4 linked regions of the Homo sapiens genome follow. The protein of the gene in region 4 purifies or fractionates together with the protein of the main gene of each other region. This does not show direct contact. Each region holds a gene or a part of one and is shown on either strand. Other genes may lie near its edges.

Region 1 (8,179 bases), on a different chromosome or scaffold from region 4:
TGTGTGCTCCATTGCCTAAGTTTGTTTTGTTCACTATGTGTCCCTGGCCTGCATATTTGTGAATATGCAGTGAATATGAATGTGAATATGTAAGTGAATAAAAGAAAACAGCTCAGAAGCTGTGGCTTTGAGGATGGAAAAGAAGGGAACCATAGTTGATAAACTACCTAGCAGAAAGGACCTTAGTTCCTTTTAATATTTTGGGGTCAGACAGTGCAAGCTGTCGACAGCAGCTTAAGGAGATACATTAGAGTCTTCCTGGCAGTTCTTAGAATGCCTTGTGCTAGTGTTGAATGGGACCTCCAAATTCCTAGTGTGCTGCGTGTATGTCTGTTGAAGGAGCTCATCACTTGCACAAGGACCAGAATCACTTTTACTGCAGCATGGCCAGTTTTCTGGCCACTGTTCCTAGTTATACCTTTGATTCTTTTACACACACACTGTAGCTGCTGCCAAGGCAGGATCAAAGTCCAAATACTGCCCTCAAGGATGTGCTGACTTTAGCAATGCCAACCAAGTGAAGCAGCAGTGATGTCAATGTGGCAGAGAAAAGGGTTATGGGGAAATTGGGTGCAACTTTTTTTTTTTTTTTTTTGAGACAGAGTCTTGCTCTGTTGCCCAGGCTGAATGGAGTACAGTGGTGTGATCTTGGCTCACTGCAACCTCCACCTCCTGGGTTCAAGTGATTCTCATGCCTCAGCCTCCCAAGTAGCTGGGATTACAAATGCCTGCTACCATGCCTGGCTAATTTTTGTATTTTTAGTAGAGATGGGGTTTCACCATGTTGGCCAGGCTGGTCTCGAACTCCTGACCTGTAATGATCTGCCCACCTCGGCTTCCTGAAGAGCTGTGATAATAGGTGTAAGCCACCGCGACCGGCTGAGTGCATCTTGACCTTTAGAGAGAAGCTTCGCTTTTCAAATTTTTAAGAGGCTATTGTACATGCCAGAAAGTAGCTGATCAGTCAGAATATCACCATATATCTTTAGGAAAAATGTTAGTTTAGTTACTTGTGCGGTGCCTAGCATTGAGCAGTTGCTTGACTGTCATAATAATTCTGCTGTCTCTACTGTACTCTTGCATCTGGATAACTTTGTCTTTCTTACCTTTGGAGATTCAAGACAAGTTGAACAAGACCAAGGATGATATTAGCAAGAACATGTCATTCCTGAAAGTGGACAAAGAGTATGTGAAAGCTTTACCCTCCCAGGGTCTGAGCTCATCTGCTGTTTTGGAGAAACTTAAGGAGTACAGCTCTATGGGTATGATGCTTGGCATATACATGCTCTCTACTTCCTTAAAGAGACAGGTTTTGTCATTGTTTAATGTTCACATAGGTTAAGAATAACTCATCATTGGTTAATACATGTTTAGGAGGGCCTACTCTCTGTTTCACAGGTTGAATTTCCTATTTTTAAAATTATGTTTAGATTCATCCTTCATCCATAAAGCAAGCAAATCTCAGAGACAGTGGAACTTGGCTTTTATTTCCTTTTGTAAGCATGAATAAAACAAATATATTTGTGTTTAAGAAGAGAGAATATAAGATATGTAATACAAATGAAATACAGATCCATGTAAAAATGTGAAATCTGCATAAAGGCACAAAAGAAAATAAGTCACTATAATTCCACTATCAAAGATAAACAGATGGTGTCTATCTTTATGCATGTAGCTATAGGTAGAGCTGTCTATATAGTTTACATCTATCTATATATGTATATCTGTCTGTTTCTGAGAATGCTAATAGTGTTTGTCTGTGTGTATACACATGTATGCATGAGCACATATGGGATGGATAAATAGACCAAATAGCTTGGTGCTTAAGAGCGTAACCCTGGAACCAGCCTGGATTCATACCTTGGTTTGCCACTTAAAGTATGCCTTTGGCGAGTTACTTCTGTATGTCACAGTTCCTGTATCTCTACAATGGGGATAGTAATAGTAGTACAGTACTTACCTGAAAAGATGATTATGGGGATTAAATGAGATCATACATGTATAAATGTTTTATAGTGCCTGGCATATAGTAAGGATTCAGTAAATGTTAAACATTATTGCTATTATTAACTCAAACAGATTTATGTTTGTTACTGATTAAGATCATATTACAAGTACTTTTTAAAAAGAAGCTTTTTAGTTTGATATATTTACAGAAAAGTAGCAAAGATGATAGAGATTTCCCTATACCCAGCTTCTCCTGATGTTAACATCCTCTATAACCATGGTACGTTTATCAAAACTAAAAAATTAACATTGGTACAGTGCTATTAACTACACTACAAATTCTATTTCTAGTTCATCAGGGTTTTTTTTTGTTTTGCTATGTTTTGTTTTAAACTAATGTTCTTTTTTCTATTCTAGGAGCCAACCAGGAGCCATGTTGCATTTTGACAAATACCCTTATTTTTTATTTTTTGAGACAGAGTCTCACTGTGTTGCCCAGGCTGGAATGCAGTGGTGTGATCTCAGCTCACTGCAACTTCCACCTTCCAGGCTTAAGCAATTCTCGTGCCTCAGCCTCCCAAGTAGCTGAGATTACAGGCGTGCGGCACCATACCCAGCTAATTTTTTGTGTTTTTAGTAGAGATAAGATTTCACCATGTTGCCCAGGTTGGTCTCGAACTCCTGAACTCAGGTGATCTGCCCACCTTGGCCTCCCAAAGTGCTAGGATTACAGGTGTGAGCCACTGTGCTCGGCCTTGACAAATACCCTTACAATTTCTAAGTGACATGTGTTGAGGTCTTGACATTGAATAGTACAAAATTTGATATAGTCTAGGATGTAGATGAATAAAGCAGTGGTTAGCACTCTAAAACCTGGTGTTAAAGATTTCCATGATTATGAGACCTGGTTGCCGCCATCATATTGCCTTCTCTTTAATGTTTAAGTCACTGTCCATTGCTGTATTCTCTAGCATCAGTAAAAGAACAGGAAATGAAACCAGTTATCTTATTTTTGAAAGGCTGGTGACCACTGGTCTGAAGCTGTGTATAGTACAGAGCAGTGTCCTCTAAGGAAAGAGTGAAAGTCAAACGGGCAGCAAGCCAGAGCTTGGCAGATTGCTGTAAGAATGAGTTTGTCTGTATATTTACCACTTAGTTTTCTGTTCTCAAGAGCTGAAGATCTTTGCTTTGGAGAGCCCTTGGCTCCATGCAGTTTTTAGTTGGTGTGTTTCCGTAATAGCTTTCTCACTACCCACTTTCAATAGGGCACAGCTGCATTGTAGCACAAGGACCTGAGACACCCATATCAACAAATTTGTGGGTAAAATGAAGAATGTCTCGGGGAGAGAGGAAAGTGGAAAGTCAGATCTTATATTCTACTCAGGAACTTTACTTTTCTTTCCACACTGGGATAAAGGAGGTTTATCCCAATGTTGACTGTGTTCCTGATCTTGAATATGCTACAGCGTGTGCTGCTGGAAGCAGGTAACTAGTTTTATGTGGGTTTCCAGGCTTGGCTTAAGGGAGCCGGCGTCTGAGACCGGGGTGCTCATGGTTTATACCTCATTGTGGTTTGTTTGCTGGTTTCATCTCTGATGATAGTGTGCTGAAATTTCACACTTTTCATTTTGCTTTCTTCTGCCAACTCTGCTCATAATAGTTCTCAAAATTCCTAGGACTGGATAGGAAAGGAGAGAAGAAGGAAGCTATTGCAGAAAAAGGCCACTCCAAAGCCATATAGAGAACAAAAAATAAGTATAGACAAAGGCAAATGTTCCTGCTGTTAGAAGGCAGTTGAGGATGAGGACAACATTATTATCAGATTGCCTTTATTGTAGCTAAATGCTATTAATATCTTTTTCACATTGCTGATAATAATGATTTTTCATCTTTATTTTATTGTGCTAACTCTATTGAACTTTTTTCTTGATTTGCTATAAGAATGCTGTTGGGTTTCCACTCAACATTTTTTTCTTTTGTATCCAGAGGAGTTTCTTCCTGTTTCTTCTTTATCAGAACCTGTCTTCCCAGAGATTCTTGCTTACTGACCAGTGACCTTACCTTTCTCTGCAGACGCCTTCTGGCAAGAGGGGAGAGCCTCTGGAACAGTGTACAGTGGGGAGGAGAAGCTCACTGAGCTCCTTGTGAAGGTGAGTGTCCAGTTCTTGAGGGAAGCCTGTGAGGTCTGTGCCAGTTTACATGACCTCCTTTTTTTCCCTTACTTTTGTAATTAGAAAAATTACTTAAGGAAAGCTTATTGGTACAATAAAACCATAAAAGTTTCTCTTCACCCAAACATAGGCGAATATGTATAATATTATCAAAGACATCTTCAGTCTGTAAAATAGTAAAATGTTATTTATGTTTTCAGTCTTTGCAGATGTCCTGTCTAGAAGGCAGATTACTAGGGAAGGTAGTCCTGTCAGATGAGATTTTTGTGGTGAGACAGATTTTGTTTGATAAGAAGAGATAAGATAGGGAAACTCTTTCATAATTTTCTCAAATCATGTGACCCAAGATGAGCAGTGGTCTCATGTATACTTCAAATAATTCTCATTCTTAGCTTCTTCCATTTCTAATCAAATTTATTTTTATTTTATTTTATTATTTTTACAGACAAAGTCTCACTCTGTCACACAGGCTGGAGTGGAGTGGTGTAATCATGGCTCACTTCAGCCTTGACCTCTTTGGCTCAAGTGATCCTCCCACCTCAGCCTCCTGAGTAGTTGGGACTACAGGCGTGCATCATGACACCCAGCTAATTTTTGTATTTTTTTGTTGGAGATGGGGTCTCACTCTGTTGCCCAGGTTGGTCTTCAACTCCCAGCCTCAAGTGATCCTCCTGCCTTGGCCTCTGAAAGTGTTGAGATTACAGCTGTGAACCACTGCACTCGGCCCTCATATTTATTTTTGAAACTCCACTTCATCATATAAAATTGGGGTTGTACTGATGATCTCTAAGGTCTTTGTGTTTGATTATTATAAATATGAAACTGTCCCTTACTAAATAAATATGGCAGGTTTTGCATAAGTTGGTGTAATGCTCTGATCTTCTGTGCTTAAAATCTTTCAGTAGCTTCCCATTATCTACAGGATGAAACTCAGGTTCTTATGCAGCAGAGAATACAAGTTTCTTCATGAGCCAGCTCCCACTTATTTTTTCTTAACTACTTCTCTTCATTTCCCACATAAACACTAATCCTGCCTTTTCTCTTTACTAAATGTGTCATGCTTTTACGTTGTTTTCCTTCCCTTCCATCATTCCTCTTGTTCCAAATGATGATTCCTACTCATCTCTCAAAGTTCCACTCAGCAGACACCTCTAGATCACTCAGGATGTTAGTTGTTCCCTCTTCAGGGTCCCTTAGCACTCTGTACACACACCTGATATTGCAGTCGATAACAACAGCTGCTTTGTGCCAGACACTCTACTAAGTGCTTCACATGCATTATGTTATTTAATTATTGCTAGAACACTAGAAGATAGCTACCATAACAACTTCTGCGTATGAAGAAACAACCTTAGATTATGTGACCTACACAGCTGAAAGTAATAGGCAAAGCTTAGACTTCCTCCTGGGTCGGTTTGGTGTTATAGTCTGCGCTTTTAACCATATTTATACTTCTTTCCTCATCACATTGTAAAATTATTTATTTACATGTCTGTCTCCTCTGCTATGTTTTGATCTTTTGGTTGAGGAATATATCTTATCTTTTTTTCCAGTTTATATTGTTGTGCCTAATACTTAGAAACTGTTGTTTAGTGCATGATTCTTTGTCCTGTATAGTGTAATAGTTTTGATTTCACATCTGCTTGCATTTTTTTGCAGGCTTATGGAGATTTTGCATGGAGTAACCCCCTGCATCCAGATATCTTCCCAGGACTACGCAAGATAGAGGCAGAAATCGTGAGGATAGCTTGTTCCCTGTTCAATGGGGGACCAGATTCGTGTGGATGTGTAAGTATATGCAAGGGGCATCCAATAGCCTTATTTTTTAGGTTAAAATAGAAGAGTTTTTAATAAATATTAATTATATTTTAAAAAATAAAAAATATTAAAAATATTTTACTACACAAGAAATATTTGATCATTGTAGAAAGGTCATTTTACTACACAAGGAATATTTGATCATTGTAGAAAGATCCTAATTAACTGCAGTTTTAAATGTTACTTGTAATTTTGTAACCTAGACAATGTCAACATTTTGGTATATATTCTTCTAGATATTTTTATTTTCACCTTTTTATTTTGAAAAACTTTGAACCTACATTGAGTTGCTAGGATGGCTTAAAGAACACCTTAGATTCACTAAATGTAAATATGTTGCCATATCTGCTCTCTACACTCTTTCCCTCCCTACCCGCTTCTTCCCTCATCCCCCACCTGCATACCTACCATTCCCCTATTTATCTGTGTATACTTTTGTTGTTCCATCCAGCAGTGTTTTTAGTGTACTTCTGGTTTTACCTGAGCCAAAGTTTAATTTATTATTTTGCTGTAAACTGAACCTCATTTAGTTGCTATTAGGCATAAAGAAAGGGGGAGGACATCATTATATTTAAAGAAACACATGAGGATTCTTTGTTTTACCTGTTCTTTCAAGTAGATGGTTGTTAGTTTTCGTAAACTATGATAGATAAACTTCTGTTTAGATCTGTTGTCTTTAGAAAAAACGAAATCTCAGGTTATGTAGGATAGATAGATTTAACTCAATATGCTGCAATGGTGTCCTAGAGGTGCTAATCCTATCAGATACTCATCATATTTGCAGTCATTATAAAGACTGCAGATTTAATTATTGAAGGGCCCATTCGAAGAGCACCTAATTTAGTTTCTTTTTTTTTTTCCAGGAAGCATTGTTTTTGTTTTGTTTTTCTAATATGTTGGCGCCATGAAAATCATCATGTTCAAATATTAGTAGTAATAAAGGTGATATGCCTGGCATTCATTTTCAAAGCAAAATACTGAAACTGTTAAAAACAGAACCACCCATAATACAGCAGCAGTTTCCCTTAGAGTACTGAGGTGAACAGGGTGACTTTCAGAGGGAAGATGATAATGTACTTACAGTATATTCTCCTATGCCATTAGACTCTTGAAGAACTTGTAAGAGGCCAGAGTGAATAGCCACAGAACAGTTTGGCCTTATCTGGTAAATTTGAAGATACATATATCTTATGACCCAGAAATTCTGCTACTAGGACATACTCTAGAAAAATTAGTACACATATATATCAGGATATATGGACATTAATATTCATAGCAATGTTATTCATGATAGCTAAAAACTGGAAGTAATTCAAATGCCTATCCACAGGACACAGATGAATAAATTGTGGAATGCTGTGTGTGCCTCAATCCATTGTAGCTCTTATTCAGATTGATGTACAAATTGCCTCATCCATCTTTGGCCAGTGGAAACATCATATTGGCTCCTAGGTCCATTTACATGACCCAAGTAATCTTTGAAAGCCTTTTTTCTCTTTCTTTCCTTTTTTTTTTTTTTTTGACGAAATATTCCAGGTTCAGGTTCACTTTGTCCATTTCCTGCTCCAGGCCTTCAATCAGCCATTTATCCAAGGAGCCCTGGTTCATTTAAAACTAGGTAAAATAATTACATAGTTCCAAAATCACATTTATGGAACAAGACAGATTAAAAAAAAAAAGTTAACCAGAATGCAGTCCAGAGAGACAAAGAAATAGAAGGTATGAAAGAGAGGCTAAGAGATGCAAAGGATAGGATGAGAAGGCTAACACACATCTAACTGGTGTTTGAGAGCAGCCAGAGAAAATAGATTACCTACAAAGGCATAACTGTTAGGACAACTGATACTCAATAGCAACGATGGCTGGGGCAGTTGGGGGTAGATGAAAGATTGGCTGTAAATTGAAAATTGCTGGAGCCTGGTGATAAGTAGTGAGAGGTCACAGCGTGCTGGCAGTCCTCACAGCCCTCGCTCGCTCTCGGCGCCTCCTCTGCCTGGGCTCCCACTTTGGCGGCACTTGAGGAGCTCTTCAGCCCACCGCTGCACTGTAGGAGCCCCTTTCTGGGCTGGCCAAGGTCGGAGCCGGCTCCCTCAGCTTGCAGGGAGGTGTGGAGGGAGAGGCGTGAGCCGGAACCAGGGCTGCGCGCAGCGCTTGCGGGCCAGCTAGAGTTCCCGGTGAGCATGGGCTTGGCGGGCCCCGCACTCGGAGCAGCCGGCCGGCCCTGCCGGCCCCGGGCAATGAGG
Region 2 (8,179 bases), about 16 Mb from region 4:
CCCCATCGCCCAGGCTGGGATGTAGTGCTGCAATCTCAGCTCACTGCAGCCTCCACCTCCAGAGTTAAAGTGATTCTTGTGCCTCAGCCTCCTGAGTAGCTGGGATTACAGGCACCCGCCACCACACCCAGCTAATTTTTGTATTCTTAGTAGAGATGGGTTTCACCATGTTGGCCAGGCTGGTCTTGAACTCCTGACCTCAGATGATCTGCCCGCCTTGGCCTCTCAAAGTGCTGGGATTACAGGCATGAGTCACCGTACCCAGCCAAATGGTTTTTTTGTTTTTTGTTTTTTGTTGTTTTTTGAGATGGAGTCTCACTCAGTCACCCAGGCTGGAGTGCAGTGGCGCAATCTCGGCTTACTGCAAGCTCTGCCTCCCGGGTTCACACCATTCTCCTGCCTCAGCCTCCCGAGTAGCTGGGACTACAGGCGCTCACCACCACGCCTGGCTAATTTTTTGTATTTTTAGTAGAGATGGGGTTTCACCATATTAGCCAGGATGATCTCGAGCTCCTGACCTCGTGATCCGCCCGCCTTGGCCTCCCAAAATGCTGGGATTACAGGCATGAGCCACCGCACCCAGCCGCCAAATGGCTTTTTTAAATCGTAAATTACTTTTCTTGATTGAAGTTTTATGCAAAAATTGATCAGGATGATACCTACATGCCAGGTTTTTATATTTGAAACACATAACAAACTGAGCCTTAAAAATTCTGACTAAGCAGACTAGTATATAGGTAAAGAAATATCTAGAAAATGGAGTATTGTGCACAAAGTTTAATTTGGAAATAAATTTGTAAAATAAACTAAAATTAATTTTAGAAACCCTAACTTTGTTTGCTTTGACAATACAATGGAAATTATCAAGTTATAGTTAGAATAGGGGGAGACAAATAATGGTTGTCCTGAAAAGAACCCAAACTCAGACATTAGAGAGTCTTGAGGAGGTTCCATAGTGAATGTTAGGAGCATTATTAGCCTGTGAATCTGATTGGCTGGATTTGAATCCCAGCTCTGGCCACTAGCTGTGTAAGCTGAGATAGTCCCATTGTTGTAAGCCTGAGTGAAAGTGGGGATAATAAATGCAATGCCTGCCACATAAAGTTATGACGTCAAATAGTATACATTTGGTAAAGGCTCACAATTCTTATTATAGTTATTACTATTATTGTTTTACCATTATCATTATCATCATCATTGTTTCTCAAGGCAAAATCTAGCCTCCACCTCTTTATCTGTGTGACCTTGGTCTTTGCTTCTCCAAGATTCAGATTTTCCAGAGCACTGTTACCTCCATCCAGGGTCATTGTGAGGATTAAATGAGAAGTTTATACAGCACCTAGGTCAATGCTTTGTTGATAGTAACTGCTTTTACAGGTTAGCGCAACTAATAAGTCACTAACTCCTCAGCATTATAACATAGGCTTAATAAGTTTAACACCAAGTTCTTTCCTTGGGTGTAAGTTTAGCCTTAAAAGACTTCTAAAGATTTTCCAAAGTTAATGTTCTGTAATTAGCATATATGTAATCAAATAGGACTTTTATGTATATCTCATTCTTTCTTTATAACTTAAATATATATTATCTGGTTACAATTTAACACCCAGTTCTTTCCTTTGGTGTAAGGTTAGCCTTAGAAGACTTTTAAAGATTTTCCAAAGTTAATGTTCTATAATTAGCATATATGTAATCTTATATATTGAACTTTTATGTATATCTATTTCTTTCTTTATAACAAGTATATTTTACCATATCTGTATGTTATTACAAAGTAAATTATCATTATTTTTCAATTAAGAAGAAAACTAAGACTGTAGAACATTGAATGATTTGACCTCCTCAGGTACCTTTTGGTAGGTCTTCTGACTGCAAATGCTGGGTTCCCTCTGTTAAATCATACTACTTCCTGAGAAGAAATAAAAGATAAAGTGGGAAAATTCTGCATCTTAGGCAAGCTAAAGAAAAGTGGTTTAAAAATTATTGCCACTTCAAAAATAACAATGGCAGAATAGAAGGTATCTATTTTTATCACCTCTTGGGATCTTTTTGTGGGGCCAAGGGGAAAGCAGAAAGATACTAAAAGAGATGTTCATGTCCCTTTTTATTCATTTTAATTATTAAAGGGAACAGTGGCTTTGTGATTAATGACTGCTGTTCAGTCTATTTTATATCTTACAAGGATCTGACAGTTTTGTTTTACATTTTATAGCTGCAGCTTATCTTCTGGTGTCCCTTATACCAAGCAATTCATTCCGTCAGATGTTCCGGTCAACAAGGTCTTTGCACATCCCAACCCGTGACCTTCCACTCAGTCCAGACACAACAGTAGTCCTACATCAGGTCTACAACGTGCTCCTTGGTTTGCTCTCAAGAGCCAAACTTTATGTTGATGCTGCTGTTCATGGCACTACAAAGCTAGTGCCCTATTTTAGCTTTATGACTTACTGTTTAATTTCCAAAACTGAGAAGCTGATGTTTTCCACATATTTCATGGATTTGTGGAACCTTTTCCAGCCTAAACTTTCTGAGCCAGCAATAGCTACAAATCACAATAAACAGGCTTTGCTTTCATTTTGGTACAATGTCTGTGCTGACTGTCCAGAGAATATCCGCCTTATTGTTCAGAACCCAGTGGTAACCAAGAACATTGCCTTCAATTACATCCTTGCTGACCATGATGATCAGGATGTGGTGCTTTTTAACCGTGGGATGCTGCCAGCGTACTATGGCATTCTGAGGCTCTGCTGTGAGCAGTCTCCTGCATTCACACGACAACTGGCTTCTCACCAGAACATCCAGTGGGCCTTTAAGAATCTTACACCACATGCCAGCCAATACCCTGGAGTGAGTAAAATTGATACTCTTTTATCTGTATCCTCAAATAGATTGGAAATACCTGTTTTTCCCCTGGTGGGAAGTGGTGGCAGAATATAGAATAGTCTCACCATTCTTTCTTAAGAACTTAATGTGTATTTGTTTTCTTAAATACATATATAAAATGCTGTGTTGTTATAAAATTGATAACTGTGTAGATAACTTTTCTTAGGGTGAAGTTAAAGTTGCATATCCAGTAAAACTTACCTGTTTTTTAATTTGTGGTTTTGTAAATGTATTCTTCATGTGTGCCTAATGAAAAAAGCCAGCTTCATGGTACAGTTTTAAGGAATTGAGTACTTTGCTATTTAAAAATCAGATACTTAGCAAAATCTACATGCTGTGGTAAACTGTGAGCTAGACAATTTTATATCTAAAACTAGTAGTATTCCGCAGTATTTTTTCTCAAGCTGCATCCAAACAAATGAAATGCTTAAGAGATCAATCGAGATACATATATATGCAGTCTAAATTGGGTCCCTTTTACTCTGCACACTTACTTGTAGGTTTTATATTAAGTTTCCTCCCCTCGATGTAAAGCTGTCAAACCTGGTTAATAACTTTTCACTGTTGCCTCTTATTCTCTGTTGTAAACTGTACTTTAAAGACAGACCGTCCTTTATAGACGGTCTTTTTTTTTCTAGATGGTGTAATGAGTTGTATAGAATCTCACACCTGGGAAGAATAACCTAATTTCTAGTCAGAGAAAATTAGAATCCCAGGCCGGCATAGTGGCTCACACCTGTAATTTCAGCACTTTGGAGGCAGAGGCGGATCACTCGAGCCCAGCAGTTCAAGACCAGCCTGGGCAACATGGCAAAACTCCATCTCTACAAAAAATACAAAATTAGCTGGGAGTAGTGGTGTGCACCTATAGTCGCAGCTGCTTGGGAGGCTGAGGTGGGAGGATCGCTTGAGCCCAGGAGGTTGAGGCTGCATTGAGACATTGTACTGCACCCTGGGCAACAAAGCAAGACTCTGTCTCAAAAGAAAAAATCAGAATCCCTACAATGCAGGAAAGAGAGTGAGTGTACAAGTACCAAGAAATTGAAAACCAATGCCATAAGAATACAAAATATCAATCTTTCTGACTTCAAAGGGGTCGGGATAGGATTTATTAAGTTTCAGTAAATTTGTCTCTATCATATTCACATAAATAATATTTGATCTAGTTACTAGATGTGATGTCCAGAATTAAATATACTTTGACAAGTACTAGATGAGTTAGAATTTATCCCTCCATGTTATTTATTGCCCTTGACATCAGTGAAATGTAATGTCTTTTATTGTAGAATGTCCTTATCTATTAGAAATTTTCATGAAAATGGTACTTAAGTCAGTTTTTTGCTTTGAAAAATAAGAAGCTGGGGGTTTCAGTTCATTGACAAGTATGTGTTAGAAGAGCAGTCCTCTCCTGACATGTGCATATGAGTCTATAAAATCACAGCTAGTGATTTTACTAAAATATTTGTTTTTACTTTTTATTCATCAGGAAATTGAACTGAGCATCATTCTAGAAAAGCATTTTAAATGTTGGAACAAAGGTTTACCTCATATACACTATTAATTTAAGGGTTATTTAGGCATTTAAAATCTTTGTGACAAAGTAATGATTTCTCATTAATTAAAGAAAAAGTGGATAGGAGATGGTGTGGCATGCCTCTGGGTTTACATTTGAAGTTACAAAAGTAGTGCTTTAAGCAGTAATAAGACTAAAAATGAATTGTATTCACTTACAGTTTTTACTCTTTCTAAACTTGTATTTTAAGATTTGTTGAGTTCTTTTAGTGTTTATTATTATTGTTATTATTTGTATTTTAGTAGAGACAGAGTTTCATCATGTTGCCCTGGCTGGTCTCGAACTCCTGAGTTCAGGCAATCTGCCCGCCTCTGCCTCCCAAAGTGCTAGGCATCAGCCACTGCGCCCAGCCAAAATTTTTTAAATAGAATTTGTTACTGATTTTATAACTTTCTGAATGGAAGTATAATCTAGCTTATTTGTATAATTTTAAGAGTTGATTAATGAACGTAGAAATGAGAAACTGACCTTCTAAAATGCTATAGGGTTAAAAGATCATATGGCTTATTTGGCTTTTTTAGGCAGTAGAAGAACTGTTTAACCTGATGCAGCTGTTTATAGCTCAGAGGCCAGATATGAGAGAAGAAGAATTAGAAGATATTAAACAGTTCAAGAAAACAACCATAAGTTGTTACTTACGTTGCTTAGATGGCCGCTCCTGCTGGACTACTTTAATAAGGTAAAAAGATGTTTTTAGTTTTGTCTTGTTTATTTCCAGTGAGATGAGGACCATCCTTTTGATGTTTAAAGATAAATCATTTACATTGGGGAAGCATTTGTGCATGTAGCCACTTTGGAACATTTTGAAGGTTCATGAACTACTTTTAAACAGTTTTTGGTCTGGCTTTGGTTTGTATTTGTGTATGTTTTATCATTTTAGGGTTGAAGGGAACCTTTATGTATAGCCTTCTACCCAAAGCTTGAATAGTCTTGTTTATGGCAATTTATCCTAACTCAGGCTTGATAGTTCAGTTCTAGAGGCCTCCAGGAAGTTTTCTGCACCTTTGGATGAGTCTGTTAATATTTTGCATTCTGTTTAGCCCAAATATATCTATCTGGCTTTCTGATCTATATGACTTGGCCAAAATTATAAAACATAGTCTTTATAATTAATTTTCAGAGCTACAGAAGTTATTGAATGGTTACAGGAACTACTACAAATTACCCTTAATTCCCCTTAACCTAGAGAAATAAAGTTCAGGCTAATTTCTTAAATTCTTCTATGTATTACATCTAAGACTTGGAAGTGTTGTTTTTTATTAGGCACATTTTTTTTAATGGTACTTTACTGAAGACTTCACTGTAATATCTTAAGCTACTCAATCTAAGATGAGGTTATTTCAGATTGTCTTCTTTGGAAAGCTTTCAAATGTGAGTCTTCATTAGTAAACAGGGAAATTAACTACGCCTTTGCCGGATTTCTTAAAGGGATTGTTTTTAAATTTTGGATTAATTTTGAATACAATTGTTTTCCCAAAGTTTACTACTTAAAGCTTTATTTCAAAAAAGATTTAGAGCAGCCTGGGCAACATAGTAAAACCCCATCTCTATATAAATAAATAAGTTAGCAAATAAATTAGGGTGTGACGGCATGCACCTGTAGTCCCAGCTCCTCGGGGGGCTGAGGTGGGAAGATCCTTGAGCCCAAAAGGTGGAAGCTGCAGTGAGCCATGATTGTGCCATTGTACTCCAGCCTGGGTGACAGAGCGAGTCTCAAAAAAAGAAAAAAAAGATTTGGAGCTTTCTTAACTCTTCTTGAAAAAGGAAAGGAATAAAGTAGAAGGATTTCCAGTTGTAGTCTATAACAACATTTTTCTGGTATCTAATGAAAGAAGACCTGTTAACAGTAATATAGCTGTGTGAGTAATTATAGTCATGTGTTGCATAACAACAGGGTTACATTCTGAGAAATAAATTTTTAGCCTATTTCATCATTGTGCAAACATCAGAGTGACTACTCACACACAACTAGATAGTAGCGCCTGCTACACCCCTAGGATATATGGTATAGCCAACTGTTCCTAGGCTCTAAATCTGTATAGCATGTTACTACACTGAATACTGTAGGCAATTATAACAGAAAGGTAAGTATTTGTGTATCTAAACGTATTTAAACATAGAAAAGGTACAGTAAAAATATGGAATAAAAGACAGAAAATGGTACACTTGTGTAGGGCACTTACCATGAATGGTGCTTGCAAGACTGGAAATTGCCCTAGGTAAGCCAGTGAATGAGTGGTGAGGGAATGTGAAGGCCTGGGACATTATTGTACCCTACTATAGACTTTATAAACACTGTACACTTAAGCTACACTAAATTTATTTTAAAATACTTTTTCTTCATTATTAATGTACTGAACTTTTTTTACTTTATAAGTTTTTTTAACTTCTTGATTCTTCTATCGTAGCACTTAAAACACACTATCATAACACTTAAAACACACATTTTATAGCTGAACAAAAGTATTTATATCTTTATAAGCTTTTCATATTTAAATTTTTTTTCTTTTTAAATGTTTTCGTTAAAAACTAAGACATAAACACACACAATTAGGCTAGGCCTAGCAGGGTTGGGATCATCAGTATCTCTGTCTCCCACCTCCACATCTTGTCCCACTTGGGAGGTCTTCAGAGGCAGTAACTAGCTTAGAGCTGTCATCTCCTCTGACAATGATGCCTTCTTCTGGAATCCCTCCTGTAGGGCCTGTCTAAGGCTGTTTTACATTTAACTTTTTTTGAAATAAGTAGTAAAATAATGATAATATAGTAAATACATAAACCAGTAACATAGTCATTTATTAACATTATCAAGTATTAGGTACTGTACATAATTGTGGTATACTTACAAGACTGGCAGTACAACAAGTTTGTTTATACCAGCGTCATCAGAGACATGTGGGTAATGCATTGTGAATGTTACCATGGCTATGAAGTCACTAGGCTAATAGGAATTTATCAGCTCCATTATAATCTTATGGGACCACCATTGTGTTTGTGATCCATCATTTACCACAATTTCATTTTGTGGCACATGACTGTATTTTATAAACTATTTTCAAGGCTGACACGTTTTTAGTATTTTTTTCCTTCATGTTACTCTTTTTTAATTACCAGCTGATGAGTGTTTAGATAATATGGTGAATTTTATGATTATCCAGAATTTAACAATCAGAAGATGAGCCTATTATAAAAATCAACATTGTTTATGTGGAAACTTTAAAAATATTCCCATATCTTCTGCCATTGTAGATAATTAGCAGTTGATTAGATATTAATAGACTTTTTTTTAGTTAGAGTTTATTTAATATTATTTCCTTATGCTGCATTTCCAGGAAACAGATGAAGCAGTCTCTTTTCTGTAGGTAGGAAAGCAGAGAGCTTAAATGATGATTTTATTTCTTTTTATTTTTTCATCACCTAAGTGTTGTGTTCTTATTCAGACTTCTCAAACTGAACTTTATGTTTTCTTCTAGTGCCTTCAGAATACTATTAGAATCTGATGAAGACAGACTTCTTGTTGTATTTAATCGAGGATTGATTCTAATGACAGAGGTAAATATTCTATTGCATTTTACTGTGGATATTATCTCATTTTAATGTTCTCACCAAGACTTACTTTATAGACATTTAGAGTTTATGGTAAACTGTTTTACAGGTGGCAAGGTTTTAATTATATAGATCAGTAAACCTGAATTTATATCCCAAGAATAATTAGGTCATAATTTT
Region 3 (8,179 bases), on a different chromosome or scaffold from region 4:
CTGTCACCATACTCCAGCCTGGGCGACGGAGCGAGACTCCGTCTCAAAAAAAAAAAAAAATTGCACAAAATATTTTAAATTCCCTGCTCTCCAGAAACTTACATTCTACCAGGGATAGACCAACAGTTAAAAAAACAAGTAGATTGTATAGTATGTTAACAAGTAATACATGCTGTGATTAAAAAAAAAAAAAAAAAAAAGGTGGTGGGGAATGGTGTTGGAAGTGCCAAGAGCTAGGGTGAAGGCCCTAAACTGGGAGCATGCCTGGGACGTTTGGAGGAACAGTAAGGCATGGCCAGAGCAGATCAGGCAAGAGGGTGAGCAGCAAGAGGTGAGAGAGGCAGGCGACGGGGACAGTTGTGGAGGGGCAGTCATGAAAGGATGGTTGTATTGGGCTGTGCAGACTGTTGTAGGGACTTCGGCTTTTTCTCTGAGTAAAATGGGGAGCCACTGCAGGGTTTCAGGCCAAAAAGGAGCTTGCTCTCATTTAGGTTTTAATATAATCATTCTAGATGCTGTGTTTTGCAAAGTTTGTTTGCTGGGGGCAGGGTGGAGGGGCAGTAGAAGCAAGGTAACGAGTAGTCCAGGAGAGAAGGGTGGGTCAGACCAGGGTAGCTACAGGATTTCTTGATGGCTTAGATGTTTAGGATATGAGAAAAAAAGAGAAGTCAAGGATTACTCCAGGATTTAGGCTGTTGAGATGGTTAGGGCAATTTATTGCCTACACTAAATATTTTCTTTTCTTTCTTTTTTTTTTTCTCTCTTTTCCCTCAGTGTCAAGCTATCAACTTGTGTTTGTTATTGCTGTTATTGTATCTGCTTCTAGTTTCGCTCACCTATTTTAGGATATATTACTTTTGTTTAAATCTTCTGTGGGCCAAAAAACACAAAAGTTTTAAAAATTGTATATTTAAAATAAGATTGTTGGTTTAACATAGGGCCTCTGAGTGAGAGTTTGTGTTGTTGTATTTAGGAGTAAAGTGAATCAGCCTTAATGCCAGGACTTCTAACAGTTGCATTCCCTGTGGAGGCCTTAAGCTTGCTTTTGAATTCAGTTATGTTGTTAATGATTAAGTTTGCCAGAACTCTAAATCTCTGAATGAGAATTCATTTATATTTACTTTATTTGTTTAAACAGGCAAAAGAATGGACCCCAGCAGGAAAAGCAAAGCAAGAGAATTCTGCTAAGAAGTTTTATTCTGAATCTGAGGAAGAGGAGGACTCTTCTGATAGTAGCAGTGACAGTGGTGGGTTTTATAATTTATTGGCATATATTATTTACATAGTAGATTACATTCTATATCTCAGAAACAAGGCCTAATCCATAATATTCAGCAGGTAGTTTTAAGTGAAGTTTGTATTATCAAAATAATCCCTTTCATTTATATATCACTCTTTAGTTTTCAAAGTAATTTTTAATTACTAAATTCTCTTTTTACTTTACAATATCTCTTGGATAGTAGCTGATACATTGGTATAGCTGAAACAGGAACTCATACTTTTCTGAATTCTAAACCACAATGCCTAATATATCTATTGAAAAACATAATTTTACACTTGATGAACTTTTAGTGGGGTCTTTAAAAGTAACTTTCTTTTACAAAAACGTAAAGTTTATTTTATACCTTGAAGAGTCTTTTTCTCTTTCATTTTATACTTATCTCTTTCTGTGAACCTCTATAGAGATAAAGCTAAAATTATTAAGTCTCTATATACTATAAAAAAATCAAACTAAAGGTTGAGGGTAACTATATGCAGTGAAAAGAATGCTTAATAGGAAGGATTTAGAGGCCCTGGCTTTTACCTATGCAAATTGAATAAGGCACCTACTTTTCTCTATATCAGATAAATGAAGGGGTACAGTTAAATATTTCTTAAAGTCCCTTCATTGCTAAAATTCTGTGAGTGATTTGCATAATGAAAAATAGATTGTAGTCACTTTCTGATGCTCTTATTAACACTTAAGCTAATAGGCAAATCTGACCCAAGACCAAACGACACCCAACTTTCTCTAAAATCTTTATTCCTTGGAGAACCAGGGCCTGTCACTCTTACATGGTTATCTGCTACCCTACTGTAAGGTAATTCACTCTTCTTTTCTCTGTCTTCCTTATCAAAAATCTTTGTTTTTAGTATCTGATAAATTAATCTGTGATACATTACCTGTAATTTCTTTCATTGTTTATAGCATAAGCCAGTTATCTGACTTAATATGTATGTGCGTGTAACTTGGATATTACCACAAATCTAAAATGTCCTTATTTAGTAGCTTTATTTTAGTAAAATAAACTTTCCTGTTTGTAAATGATGATAATGATGAGTGCCTTACCCTGTGGCAGACCCTGTTGTGTTCTAATCTCCTTTGTATGTTTCAAATCATTTAATCTTCACAACAGCTCTGAAAAGTAACTAGTGTTATCCCCATTTGCTGAAAAGGAAACCAAAACCCAGAGAAGTTGAATAACTTGTTCAGTTTTACAACTGGCAAGTAGAAGAGCCAGGATCTGAATCCGAACACTAACTTGAGAACCCATGCTTGTACCCCTTGTAAGCCGTCTTAAAACAATACAGGCAGTCCTAGGTTTTCACTGTGATGGACCTTCCTGATGTTGGTATTATTTAACCATTAGAATGTTTAATTAAAGGTTATGTTCCTGCCTAAGAGGGCTTCGTTACATAGATCACAGGCAGGGCAACAGTTTGTCCTTTTGTCTGGGACACAACTCTGTAGTTATAGTCATTTTAAATAGTAAAAATTATGCTTCACTTAAAAAATACACATATATTCTTCATGTATTCTCTTCTGCGAACAGTCCTAGCATACCATAATTTACACATAAAACATTTAAAAGTATAATTCCTCAGTGTAACTTGATCATCTCTTTGACCTATGGAAAACTCGTTTACTAGCTCGAATAAGTAATAACTCTTTAATTAGTCATTTTGCCTATTGTCTTTGAATTTGGAGGTCTTTCCAAGTGATTTGAATGGCTCATTTTCCTCTCAAAATTTGTTCCTAAGAAGATTCAACTGTTGCCTTCTTTTACTCTAAATAGAATTTCCCATTACAAGCAGAAGAATTCAAAATTATTTCTTTAGCCTTACATCAATCCTTACGTAATTCTTTAAAAGAAAGTTTTTGACATAGCTATATACTTTGGGGTTTGAAGTGAGATTCCCTCAAATTTGGTTTACTTGGTTCACCTTTGCTTAGCTTTTCTCTCCTCGTTGTCAGAGCATCCTCTGTCTGCCTCCCTCCAAGCTCACAGTGCTAAAGGAATCCATAGAGCTGAAAGAATGGGGTGTGGGAATAAAATGTTAAACAAGTGGTGTCCACTGAACTAAAATTCAACATCTGGTTTCATTTGTGATGAATATTGACAGTTACAGGTGTCCGTGTGTCTAATTAAATGACTATAAATCTAAGAACATCTGGTTCTGTTTTTCAGAGAGTGAATCTGGAAGTGAAAGTGGAGAACAAGGCGAAAGTGGGGAGGAAGGAGACAGCAATGAGGACAGCAGTGAGGACTCCTCCAGTGAGCAGGACAGTGAGAGTGGACGGGAGTCAGGCCTAGAAAACAAAAGAACAGCCAAGAGGAACTCAAAAGCCAAAGGAAAAAGGTAACTTATTTTGTCAGAATTTCCTTCAAAAAATATTCTGTGAAAGTTTGCCCCAGGCAGAGATGTTTCTTATTAATCAAAAAATGGTGAGAGAAAAAAAGTGTGTATTTTTTTCCAGATATTAAATCTTTTTAAAATTAAAGTGCTAGTTGTTCACATTATTTTCCTACTTGTAATGCTTAGCTTTCATTTTGAACTTGAACATATCTTGGGGTTACATTTTGAAAATTGGTATAACCTTGGAAGGCTGAGTTAAGTGATCAAGCAATAGGTATGAAACACTTAATTACCTTTTGTAGCGATTTTGCTGAGGGCTAAAATTAAATCCTTCAACACTTTGCCATTATGTAACCAAGACAATTGATTTTTCTAAATAATGTTATATTAAAAAGATTATGATCCAAATATTAGAGTCAAGGGCTGTGAAGGAAGACGGTCATAAGATCTTTAAGTGTTAGCACTTTTTAAGATCTCCCATTATCAATAACATTATCATGTATTAAAGTGTCATTAAAATTTTGAGTAATTGGGTCTAATATCTTGGATTGTGCAACTCTGTTTTCCCCGCTGCTGTCAGCGAGTGGCCTCTGCCGACATGATGGTCCTTTCCCCGGGAGCCTGCTGCCCGCTCACTTGATGAGCTTGCAGCCCGGCTCAGTCGTGGCTGACAGCACTGATTGGGGCGCAGTACGCTCTCTGCTCCTTTTATTACAGACAGTAATTAAAGCAGCTCTCCCTGCCACTTCCATAACAAACACAGCATAATGCCCTAATTATGACTTTATTAATTTAAGTCAGGATTTAATGATTTTAAAAGTGATTTATATTGTTTTTCCTGTTCAGAACAAATGAAATCTGTAGGTTAAATTAATACAGGCTTTTCATCATTGCAAAGTTAAAAACCTAGTTACCAGTAAATTCTTTTCATTAGATTAACATCTGAAACTCTAAGCAGTAAGGTAAACAATAATTACCATCAAAATTGAGTGATGCATAATAAAATAACACTTTTACTTTTAAAATCTTATCTTAAAAGCTAGAAGTTGAATATATTTAGAATCATTCACTTGTTGCAGCAAAGGAGCTACTTGGTTTATAATAGCCTTGTCTTTGAGAGAAATCCTGTACTTCTGCTTTAATATCAGCATGTCTATGATGATACGAGTTATAAAACATGTCCTGTTTCTAGAAAGGGAAAGTTTTGTTCAGTGCATGAAATGTCCTTTCAGATGGCAAAAGTCAGTATACTCAAAATTTGTAGTCATGTATTAGGTTTATTATTCTTTTCTTCAGAAATGGATTTTTCTCTTTACCCATGTTTGAATTTAAAAGAATTGTTTATTACAAAGAGAACCACAAATACATTCTAAACCTTATATTTTTAAGTACACATTTTAACCAGTGAATTGGGGATAATAAATTGCCATTTTTTTGCCAGGGAAAAACAACAACATATTTTTCAGTCTTCAAATATAATTACATGTGCTCTGAGATGTTACCATGGCTCCATTTTTAATAAATAGCAATCATATTTCCTCCACAAAAATCAATTCTAGGAAATATTGATTCTTTCCTTGTCTCACTCCTCTCCCTCCCCCTGTATTTTTCTGTCTCAGAATTTTTTTTAACTTTGCCAGTATGATAATTTTTTAAAGCTCCTAATAAGCTTTAAACATCTTCAAAAACCACCCTTTAGTAATCATAAATATTTATGACCAAATTTAAATTTTACACTCCAAGGTATTTTCATTTGAAGGGAGATAGTATGACATAGTGGAAAAAATACGGACTTTGGAATGAGACAGGCTTGAGTTCAGATTCTAGTTCTGCCCCTCTTGTTATGTGCCCTTGAGCAGGTTATTTAACCTTTCTAAATATTAATTTCATTATTGTAAATGGGATAATAATGTACCCAGGAAGAGTGCATTTAAATTAGATAATTAGTATGATTGGTATGAAGTGCCTAGCCCTTTCTGGCCCACAGTAGATTCTTAAAAAAATACACACACATGTGGTAGAGAGAACTAGACCTTTAGTTTCCAGGAAAATATAAAGCACCACAAGGCATTTGTCATCCCCTGAGAGAAGGGTGTTTGGTCATCTCACATGTTATTCCTTCTCCTTGGAGAACTGTTTCCCTGCCCATCTGCCAGCCTTACTCCTATATCTTGGCTTATATGTCTCTTTCTCCAGGAAGCATTCCTAATTGGATCAAGTTTTTTTAGGTGTCTCTCCACATGTTCTCCTGACACGCTATAATTTATTACTTATTACTTATTATACTGTATTATCACTGCAACCTTATCTGTATCCTCCAGTGGACCGTAGACCCTGTAGGGTAGACACACAGAGATCCTCTGTGTCTTACTAACCATCGTTATCCTTAGCACCTAGCATAATGCCAACATGTAGTCAATAATTAATAAATATTTGTTGAGCAGGTGAACAAATGAATGGTGTTAAGCACTTAGGTATGATCATTTGATATTTTAAAAGTTTATATTTGATTAGCTTAAATTTTTAGCAAGATAGTACTTTAGAAGAATTTCCTTTGAACTGGTTAACATTTTCTCATAGAATGTGTTTAAGGTCACATTTGGGAACTTGTGTAAGTAATTTTCTTGGGTAGAAAATGTATAAAATACAAGTCTATTTTAGCAGAAGTAGATATATAAATATTTAAATATATTACTAAACCAGGTGTGGTGGCTCAAGCCTATAATCCCAATATTTTGGGAGGTCAAGTTGGGAGGACTACTCGAGCCCAGAAGTTCCAGACCAGCCTAGGCAACCTAGTGAGACCCTGTCTCTACAAAAAATATAAAATTAGCTGGATGTGGTGGTGCATGCCTGTAGTCCCAACTACTTGGGAGGCTGAAATGGGAGCATCGCTTGAGCCCGGGAGGTCAAGGCTGCAGTGAGCCGTGATTGCACCACTGTACAATGAGACCCTGTCTCATATACGTATATATATACGTATATATACATGAATATATATGTATATACGTATATATATACATGTATGTATACATACATACACACACACACACACACACACACACACACAGGCACAGTATTTTGAGATAGCGTTTTAAAAAATCAGCCTAAATATCTTTAACGTTGTTACTGGTAGTACTTAATTCTTGGTAAATCAAACATTTAATGTTTTCTACATTGCTTTTGATTATATTGTTTAGTGTCATTTTATGACTTTTTGCATTTGAAATTTGTATGACAGGATAGAATTGAATTTGAATGGGTTCTAATTTATTTGGTTATGGGTAATACCTTTTTTATTACCTCATTAATGTATTCTGGAATTTAAAAACAATTTTTTTATAAACTGCTTATATAAAGGAGTTAAAGTTCATATTTCAAAATTTACTATTATGTGTAGTGATTCTGAAGATGGGGAGAAGGAAAATGAAAAATCTAAAACTTCAGATTCTTCAAATGACGAATCTAGTTCAATAGAAGACAGTTCTTCCGATTCTGAATCAGAGTCAGAACCTGAAAGTGAATCTGAATCCAGAAGAGTCACTAAGGTAAGAGATTATACATTTGTTGTAATTGAAGGTAAATATTCTTATAGCAACTAAAATAGACAACACCATCCTCATCTACTCCTGTGATTTTATTTTTTCTAGATAAGCCTTTCCCTTATAACCCAACTCTGCAGAAATGCTAGAAACTTTAAAAAATCTCATCCCTTGCCACTGAAATCAAGGAACTCTTACGCATATGACCTTTTTTGTTCTTGGCTAGGTTGTGACAAGGGGGGGGTTTTGCTGAAGGGGAAGTGAAAGGAAGTCACAAAAATAGTATTGAGCAAAGAATTATAAGTGTACATACATCATAAGAAATTGAGACTATTCACTTTTTAAAAATATTGGGCATTTTGCATAATAGAGTGTGTTTTAAGGCTTCAATTAAAGAGTATACATTCTTTAGTTAGTAAGAATTTGCGTAGCCATTTATTTAAAAACAAATGGAACCACTTATATAATAAAATAATAATGCTTTTTGGTAATAACATTTTTAACACTGAATTTTGCCTGCTTAGCAGGAAAAAAATAAAGTATAAATTGCAAAAATATAGTTATTAATATAAAATGTATTCTATCTGATTTCAAGTCTAGTTAAAAGAATAAAAATATAGAATTCAGACCTAACGATAATTATCTTTTTGGTCTTTAATAATCACCCCCTTCCTATAACTGGACCATGTTCATGCTAGACTTCAAGTATAGTATTTTTATATACAACTGTGTTATTCTGTTTGTTGAAAATATGGCCAAACTCTGCCTTTGATTCAGTTCAATTTCTTCTTAATCCAATATTGTTTTCGTTTATTTGTTCTGTTAACTGGAATCTCTTCAATATGTTATCTGAGTAGGCAAGGATGAAAATTAATTTATTGAAGTAGACAATTGCCCTCCCCCATCCAGAGATTTATTGTTAAAGAATGTTTTAAAAATTGGCTAGTATTTGTCTTGCCTTATTTCACATTTTCTTGCATATATTAAAACCTATCTTAAACTTGAATTTATATTTAAAA
Region 4 (8,179 bases):
GGTTAGCCAAATATTATTGTTACTAAAATGTCAGCATTCAGTGGTGAGAAAGGCTCTGTGCTTTTCAATGTTGAAATAAGTAGGAACTCCTGAAACTCAAAAAGGCTTTTCTTAATTCTATGGGACTGTGGTGATTTGAAGATCAAGGAAGAAAAAGTGAAACCTAAGCAGCAAACATGCAACACTGAAGAAAATAATGCTCGAAATGTTAATGCATTTTCCTTAAATCAACTGTCCCATTCCTACACTAGAGGAAATGCCCCTGTTGTTGGTAAACCGACGGTGATTTATTTTAATAGCTTCACAATGTGCATCTGTCTTTTTTTTAATATCGTAGGTTTCCATTTAATTACGCAGCTGAAAGGCATGAGTGTGGTGCTGGTGCTACTTCCTACACTGCTGCTTGTTATGCTCACGGGTGCTCAGAGAGCTTGCCCAAAGAACTGCAGATGTGATGGCAAAATTGTGTACTGTGAGTCTCATGCTTTCGCAGATATCCCTGAGAACATTTCTGGAGGGTCACAAGGCTTATCATTAAGGTTCAACAGCATTCAGAAGCTCAAATCCAATCAGTTTGCCGGCCTTAACCAGCTTATATGGCTTTATCTTGACCATAATTACATTAGCTCAGTGGATGAAGATGCATTTCAAGGGATCCGTAGACTGAAAGAATTAATTCTAAGCTCCAACAAAATTACTTATCTGCACAATAAAACATTTCACCCAGTTCCCAATCTCCGCAATCTGGACCTCTCCTACAATAAGCTTCAGACATTGCAATCTGAACAATTTAAAGGCCTTCGGAAACTCATCATTTTGCACTTGAGATCTAACTCACTAAAGACTGTGCCCATAAGAGTTTTTCAAGACTGTCGGAATCTTGATTTTTTGGATTTGGGTTACAATCGTCTTCGAAGCTTGTCCCGAAATGCATTTGCTGGCCTCTTGAAGTTAAAGGAGCTCCACCTGGAGCACAACCAGTTTTCCAAGATCAACTTTGCTCATTTTCCACGTCTCTTCAACCTCCGCTCAATTTACTTACAATGGAACAGGATTCGCTCCATTAGCCAAGGTTTGACATGGACTTGGAGTTCCTTACACAACTTGGATTTATCAGGGAATGACATCCAAGGAATTGAGCCGGGCACATTTAAATGCCTCCCCAATTTACAAAAATTGAATTTGGATTCCAACAAGCTCACCAATATCTCACAGGAAACTGTCAATGCGTGGATATCATTAATATCCATCACATTGTCTGGAAATATGTGGGAATGCAGTCGGAGCATTTGTCCTTTATTTTATTGGCTTAAGAATTTCAAAGGAAATAAGGAAAGCACCATGATATGTGCGGGACCTAAGCACATCCAGGGTGAAAAGGTTAGTGATGCAGTGGAAACATATAATATCTGTTCTGAAGTCCAGGTGGTCAACACAGAAAGATCACACCTGGTGCCCCAAACTCCCCAGAAACCTCTGATTATCCCTAGACCTACCATCTTCAAACCTGACGTCACCCAATCCACCTTTGAAACACCAAGCCCTTCCCCAGGGTTTCAGATTCCTGGCGCAGAGCAAGAGTATGAGCATGTTTCATTTCACAAAATTATTGCCGGGAGTGTGGCTCTCTTTCTCTCAGTGGCCATGATCCTCTTGGTGATCTATGTGTCTTGGAAACGCTACCCAGCCAGCATGAAACAACTCCAGCAACACTCTCTTATGAAGAGGCGGCGGAAAAAGGCCAGAGAGTCTGAAAGACAAATGAATTCCCCTTTACAGGAGTATTATGTGGACTACAAGCCTACAAACTCTGAGACCATGGATATATCGGTTAATGGATCTGGGCCCTGCACATATACCATCTCTGGCTCCAGGGAATGTGAGGTATGAACCATGATCCTCCTAAAAGCATTTCTACTGCGGGGAAGGAGAGGTAAATGTTTGAAGCCCTAGAGGTGTCTCTAATCACTAGAAAGATTAATGACCCTTTTGCTTTTGGGTTTTGCTCAGTGTGAAAGGTTACTTAATTAAATTACAACCACCAGGAAATTGACTGCTTTTTTTTTTTTTTTAAATGGTTGAAACTTGAAGGAAGTTCATTCAAGGATAAGTTGGAATAAAGCACTATGTTAAAACATCTGCTTTTTAACAATTTGTATACAGGGGTTGGACTTAAAAACACACATACAAACAAAACTCTTTTCATTCTGAAATTTCTGTCTGGTTCTTGGTGTTTGACTGTTGTAATGGAGTAAAGAAGAGGGCCAGCTTAATTTAAAAATAAAGTGAGTTTACCAAAATTCCAGAAGGTAATGAAGATTTAAACCAAAGAGCAATTTTCCCAAGGGTTGATTTTGTTGTAAATTTTTAGTTTTAATGAAAGCATGCAACAGGGATCTCACACCCATGTTACTTGCCATTTAGTTATTATACCAGCATAGAGAATGTCAGAGGCCTACTGTGTAATTGTATCAGGCTCCTAAGGCTTCTTTCTTTTTTTTTTTTTGTTTCCTTCTTTCCTACTTTCTTTCACTCCTTCCTTTCCTTCCTTTCTCTTCCTTCTTTTTTTGTTTGTTTGTTTGTTTTTTAATTACTGGGATATAGATCCGATTTCAAAGGTTTTTATGCACTGGCTATTTGTGTTTAATCAGAATGAAACTTCAATTCCATGCTTTGGCTTTGTCCCTGGTAACTAAAATCAGGTCACAATTTTGTGGATGATTTAGCAATAATAAAATGGCAGTCATAACAGGGACTGTTTGTCAGTATTGCTGTCATCCCCAAAAGAAATGATATGTATTCTTGTTAAACTTATTAAAAAATAAGTGATACAAATATTTATAAATAAAAGGAGAGAGGTTTGAGTTCTGGGTATCCTCCCTTTCTGTAACAGCCTCAAATAAAGGTGTACCTTCCATGTTATATTATTTTTGTTTTTATAAGAATAAATTTGGACCCGGTTTCTGATTATTTAATTTAAAAGATCACTTACAGGATCATGTTAGTGAGCAGACAAATAGTCACAAATTTCAAACTTGTCAATAAGTAATGCTGGATGTAAATTGTTCTTTTCTTGGTAATGTTGATCATTATGTGCAAAGACTGACTACTAAGGCCTTGTTGCTGGAAGAAACTAGTGAAGAGAGGTTAAATTCTGGCAATATAATGTTTTAGTATCTGATTTTAGATGATCACTCTTTCAAAAGACAGTTTTAATGAGTAATTAAAGATGTTGCCCTTTCTAATGCTAGTTAACAGTTGGAAAATATAATTGCTCTTTGATAGCATATACTCCAATTTTTCCATAGTCCTAACTACAAATGCTAATGAAAATGTTTTCAGACAAAGCACTGAATTTGAAATAATCTCTAACTCAGTACAATTTGGACTATTGAACTGTTCTTCAAAGAATTCATTTTCTTCTTTTTTGTGTATCATTGAAAATAAGAGAAGTAATCCCAGATAATAAATTCCTAAAAGGAAACTGTATAAGCAATTGCCCTTAAAAATTAAAAAGAATAAAAGATTTTCTATAAAAGTCTAACAAGGCTTGATGTTTTTATTGCAGGCCCACAATTATACAATATACTTGAGTATTAGTAACACAAGTTCATCCTATTTTATTCTGGGTTCTCCTTATATTTTGTGATCCTCTTAAAGGCTGGTATATAAAAAGAAAAGAAAATTCTAGACGCATTAATTCATTTTCTCTTGACTTTTGGAGTAGAATGCTAACTTTTATGTTTAAGAATCACCAAGAAGAAAGAAACATTCTTAAAGAACCAGGATTTGAGAACTGGGGTTCTAAGACTTTTCCAGAGATCTTAAATTTCACAGATTATTCCATCAAAAACCCTAGGCATTACCATGACAGAAACAAGTTTAAAAGATGGTTCATTTAATTAAAACGTGTGTTTAAATAAACACATTTTGATATTGTATGTGTTATATAGATTGACATTTAATGTCATGAAATTGCACTAGTATTGTTGAAAATGAATGTGTTGTTAAGGCATTAAGTAATGAAGAATGTAATTAAATATTGTAATAATTCTGTTGAGTCAAAATGGAATCCTTACTAAAGTAGCTCAAACTTTCTGTGCCCTCAAACATGGACATTAGTAGGCTATACATTTAAGATCATATGTCCATTTAGGATGAGGAGGGGGGTGCTATAAAACTATATTTAAATGAATTTCAACTTGTTTTAAAACGAAAGCATACAAAAACAAACATTGCAGGGGTCACCCCATTTTTTGACAGAATGTTTGCTGTATTACAGTTATAGGTAGATATAAATGGTGAGGAAAAGCAAACTCTTAGAAATTGTTATAGGGAAAACCCTAATTACTTCTTACTTCTTTGTCACTCGGAGTAAAATTTCTCCTGTTGAGAAATATTCCTTTGGACAAAATCTCTCTACAAAATAGAGCCAAGAGAGGGCAGCGATTTGCCCAACTTTACAATGTTTTTGGAATAGTATAAGTATGCTGAGTTTTAGCTTGGCATTGTTTTCATAAGTCTCATATATCACTAGTTTAGCAGAGAACCATTAATATATTTATAAGACATTTTTGTGAGGTAGGTTTTTTTAAAAAAAAATTAAAAACACCAAACTCTACCCAATAAAGCCATAAATATTTAATTGGAAAACTTAGCACCAAATGCTAATTTTCTAAGATAGTGCCTTGAAGAAATAAAAATTGCATTAAATTAAAAACTCTACTTTCCACCTAACTTTATATTCAGTTACCATGACCTAAATATGGTTACAATATCCATTTTGCTTGTTTCTTTTAAAAGGATTTTTTAAATTGAGATTATTAGATTGGCGTTTGTGAGCCTCCACACAAATATAGCATGCAATTTTCAAATTAAATAATTTTCTCTATGTTTTGCAAGTTTTAATTCTGAAAAGTCTGTGTGCACATACCATTCTGATAAAATGAGGGATAATATTTTAATAATTTGGGCAGTAAAAATTGTTCATATCTATAAAAGAGAAATAGAGTAGATAGTTATGAGTAATTAATATGAATTATAGCACAAGTATAAGGGATACATACATCCTAATCATACTTTGAGTGGATCAGTGTGCTTGGTTGAACTGAATCATTCACTTAGTACATACATCCTCAGTATGTACTCAGAAAAGAGAATTTAAAGCCAAAAGGATACAGCTTTTCCTAAAACAGTAAGGTGTTACTATATAGACAGGAAATGCAAATATTTACTTTGAAAAATAGCTTGTGAAGCTTGGCATAATGTTATCTCATTAAAAAATATGACCAGGGATATAAAGTTGCTTCATTCTGTATATCAATTTTTTCCTTCGAAATTGTAAAGAACAAAGTTTTGAATATCTAGTTCTTCTAGGATTTGTTTTATCAACTGAAAGTAGCAGCGGCCTTTATATATTAGCCAATGTGAACAAAGGACAAGAAAGAATATTTGTAGTTTGTTTTGTACATTAAAAAAAGTTAAATTGGTGAAAATTTAAAATGAATGAATGTAGTCTCTAAAGAGACTCTCCATCCAAAGTGTTTCAATAGTTAAGTAATTGAAATATAAAGTTTAATGATCCTATAGTGCTAACAGTGCTGCTATTAGGAAAATGGCAGTAAAGGTGACAATATAGGTGTATATTTTCCAAATATTTAATATTTTCATTACTTTCTTCAAAATTGAGCAAAATTTTAAAAATATACTGGTTTTCAGTTCAGGTTATATAATTTCTTTGACTGTTATGCAGTGGGTGGTATAAACCATTTCTAACAACTTTTATTTATGGACTATGTTAGGTCAGGTTCAAACAACTGGTATAAAGTAGACCACTTAACTTCTTTTCACACTTTAGATATTGATATTCTTCAGTGTGCTAAGTGAATTTCCAAGGACTACTAAGCATAATGTATATATAAAGAGGACTCTAAGGAAAGCAGACCCAGTTACCTTGAGTTTAATTAACAGTTTATCGACATACAGCTATAGAAAACAAACTTTATTTAGGTGGCTGACTACAACTGTGTCATGGTACAATGTTATGATTGAAACTGTATTTGTATATTTAAATAGGATGTGTGTGTGTTTGTATGTGAGTTTATCCATGTATGTATGTCTGTATATATATATGTGTGTGTGTGTTTGTGTGTGTGCATATAAAGACAAAATAGAAACATATTTCCATCAGAATTAATGTCCATCAAAATTAATTAAATTTTTTTACGACAATTTAAATTATTAGTAACAAATATTTGTTAAAATCACCAAGATTTTTTAGTTAGGAATATGGCCCTTAAGGTAAATGTATTATCATATCTGAAAAATTATAAGTATCGTCAGGTGCAGTGGCTCATGCCTGTAATCCCAGTAATTTGGGAGGCCAAAGTGGGTGGATTACTTGAGGTCAAGAGTTTTAGACCAGTCTGACCAACATGGTGAAAACCTGTCTCTACTGAAAATACAAAAATTAGCAGGTCATGGTGGCGCACAGCTATAATCTCAGTTACTAGGGAGGTTGAGGCAAGAGAATCGCTTGAACCCAGGAGGCAGAGGTTGCAGTGCAAGATTGCACTACTGCAGTCCTGCCTGGGCAACAGAACAAGACTCATCTCAAAATAAACAAATAAAATATAAATTATAAGTATCTTACATCTATGTAGTCTAAAATTCTTTTTCAAAAAACAAAATTTAACATAGTCAAGTCTGTATTTGTACTACATATTGCCATTTTTTGTGTTGCTTTAGACTTGTCACTTCGTTTCTCTGTGACGCATCTCTCAAACGAGTGACTCAGCTAGCACAGTGTTTCCCAACACAAAGCAATTCTCGGATTAGTATAAAGTTTGTAAAGTCTCTATGGTCATTCTCAGAACTGAAAAAGCAGGATGAGCTGTGGAGAAAAAGACTGAGCTACTTACATTCATTTGTCAATGAGAAAAGAAAGAACTTCTTCAGTTACTAAAAACTGGGGTGCCCAGGTGAGCAGCCATACAATTTCTTTATGCTTGAGGGGAAAATATGTAACTCACGCATACACATGTGTGAGCACATGAGTGCACACTCCCACACACGTATATGTCTTTGAAATTCTGCTAAGTAACTAGATATTTTGAAAGCACTTAAAACTATGTCTGCTTTTTAAAAAATCGATTGTCTGAATTAGGTCCAATTAAAATCTATTTGTGAATAGAGTTTTCATTAGAATTCACAAATGGTAGTGGTGAAGAGTGACAGCTGCCAAAAAAAGACCGACATAGCTAATTTAGGAAAGATTTTAAACTGACAATAAATGGCCCTTTTCTTTTTCTAGAATTAGCTGGTATTAGCATCTCACGGACAAGGTTTTCATAAATGATTGCTCTTGAAGACTCCCAGCTGAGAAGTCTGTGGTCTTAGGAATGTGTAGCTTTTGACACACCCCAATAATATCCACAGGATACCAGAATTTCCTTCTTGAGACTTTTCTGTGTTTATAAAATGTAATCATCCCTAGTTCTTCTCAGGAATTGCATTTAGAGATAGTTTTATGCTTTAGGAGTTGCTCAGTAATATTTTCACTGGGGACTTGGTGACTCATCTGAATTTTCATGTCTCTAGAGTTTCATGATTCACTAAATCAAAGTGAAGCAGAAGCAACCTGTATATCACTAGACACTGAGAGTTTTGAAAAACCAGTATGTCTTTTGATCAGTGAAAAGCATGAAGTGATGTTGAATACATTTTAAAAATTAAAATTGCTTTTTATAGTACCAGAAGAACCATCATTCATTGAGTCAGTTTAATAAAATCTCAATATTCATGAAAGGAAAAAGAAATTACAGGGCTATTTTTCTCATGCACTCCATAAGCCATTAAAATTGTAACTGTAAGGTAGGAAAGGTTGAGAAAAAAAGCACAGTATTTCCTAAGGTATCAAAACAATTGGCTTTTTAAATAAACGTCTGCTAGAAGCTGCTAGATATGTACAAAGACTATGTATTTAAACTCCTGCTAAAGAGTTTAAAAATAATGCTATCACTGCCAAGAGAAATTAAAATCTAAACAAACGTAACCATGGAAAATTAGTCCTTTACAAGGGAGGCCAGGTAATATGGTACACCTGTAGTCCCAGCTACTTGTGAGGCTAACGTAGGAAGATCGCTGAAGGCCAAAAGTTCGAGGTTGTCCTGAGCTATGT

What was found.
Region 1: the proteins of LRRTM4 (region 4) and SGPL1 purify together in Homo sapiens (co-immunoprecipitation; 2 studies listed by BioGRID and IntAct, with this or other methods). This does not show direct contact.
Region 2: the proteins of LRRTM4 (region 4) and USP34 purify together in Homo sapiens (co-immunoprecipitation; 2 studies listed by BioGRID and IntAct, with this or other methods). This does not show direct contact.
Region 3: the proteins of LRRTM4 (region 4) and AP3B1 purify together in Homo sapiens (co-immunoprecipitation; 2 studies listed by BioGRID and IntAct, with this or other methods). This does not show direct contact.

What each region holds. Positions count from the first base shown.
Region 1 is NC_000010.11:70,853,594-70,861,772, forward strand, and holds part of SGPL1 (sphingosine-1-phosphate lyase 1), read left to right. Parts: intron 1-1,114; coding exon 1,115-1,262; intron 1,263-2,194; coding exon of another isoform or gene 2,195-2,227; intron 2,228-4,020; coding exon 4,021-4,097; intron 4,098-5,777; coding exon 5,778-5,906; intron 5,907-8,179. UniProt on the Homo sapiens protein: Cleaves phosphorylated sphingoid bases (PSBs), such as sphingosine-1-phosphate, into fatty aldehydes and phosphoethanolamine. Elevates stress-induced ceramide production and apoptosis.
Region 2 is NC_000002.12:61,208,725-61,216,903, reverse strand, and holds part of USP34 (ubiquitin carboxyl-terminal hydrolase 34), read left to right. Parts: intron 1-2,209; coding exon 2,210-2,844; intron 2,845-4,974; coding exon 4,975-5,132; intron 5,133-7,926; coding exon 7,927-8,005; intron 8,006-8,179. UniProt on the Homo sapiens protein: Ubiquitin hydrolase that can remove conjugated ubiquitin from AXIN1 and AXIN2, thereby acting as a regulator of Wnt signaling pathway.
Region 3 is NC_000005.10:78,109,194-78,117,372, reverse strand, and holds part of AP3B1 (AP-3 complex subunit beta-1), read left to right. Parts: intron 1-1,138; coding exon 1,139-1,247; intron 1,248-3,449; coding exon 3,450-3,621; intron 3,622-7,018; coding exon 7,019-7,166; intron 7,167-8,179. UniProt on the Homo sapiens protein: Subunit of non-clathrin- and clathrin-associated adaptor protein complex 3 (AP-3) that plays a role in protein sorting in the late-Golgi/trans-Golgi network (TGN) and/or endosomes.
Region 4 is NC_000002.12:77,512,023-77,520,201, reverse strand, and holds part of LRRTM4 (leucine-rich repeat transmembrane neuronal protein 4 isoform a precursor), read left to right. Parts: intron 1-337; coding exon 338-1,884; coding exon of another isoform or gene 1,885-1,890; exon of another isoform or gene 1,891-3,544; intron 3,545-8,179. UniProt on the Homo sapiens protein: May play a role in the development and maintenance of the vertebrate nervous system. Exhibits strong synaptogenic activity, restricted to excitatory presynaptic differentiation.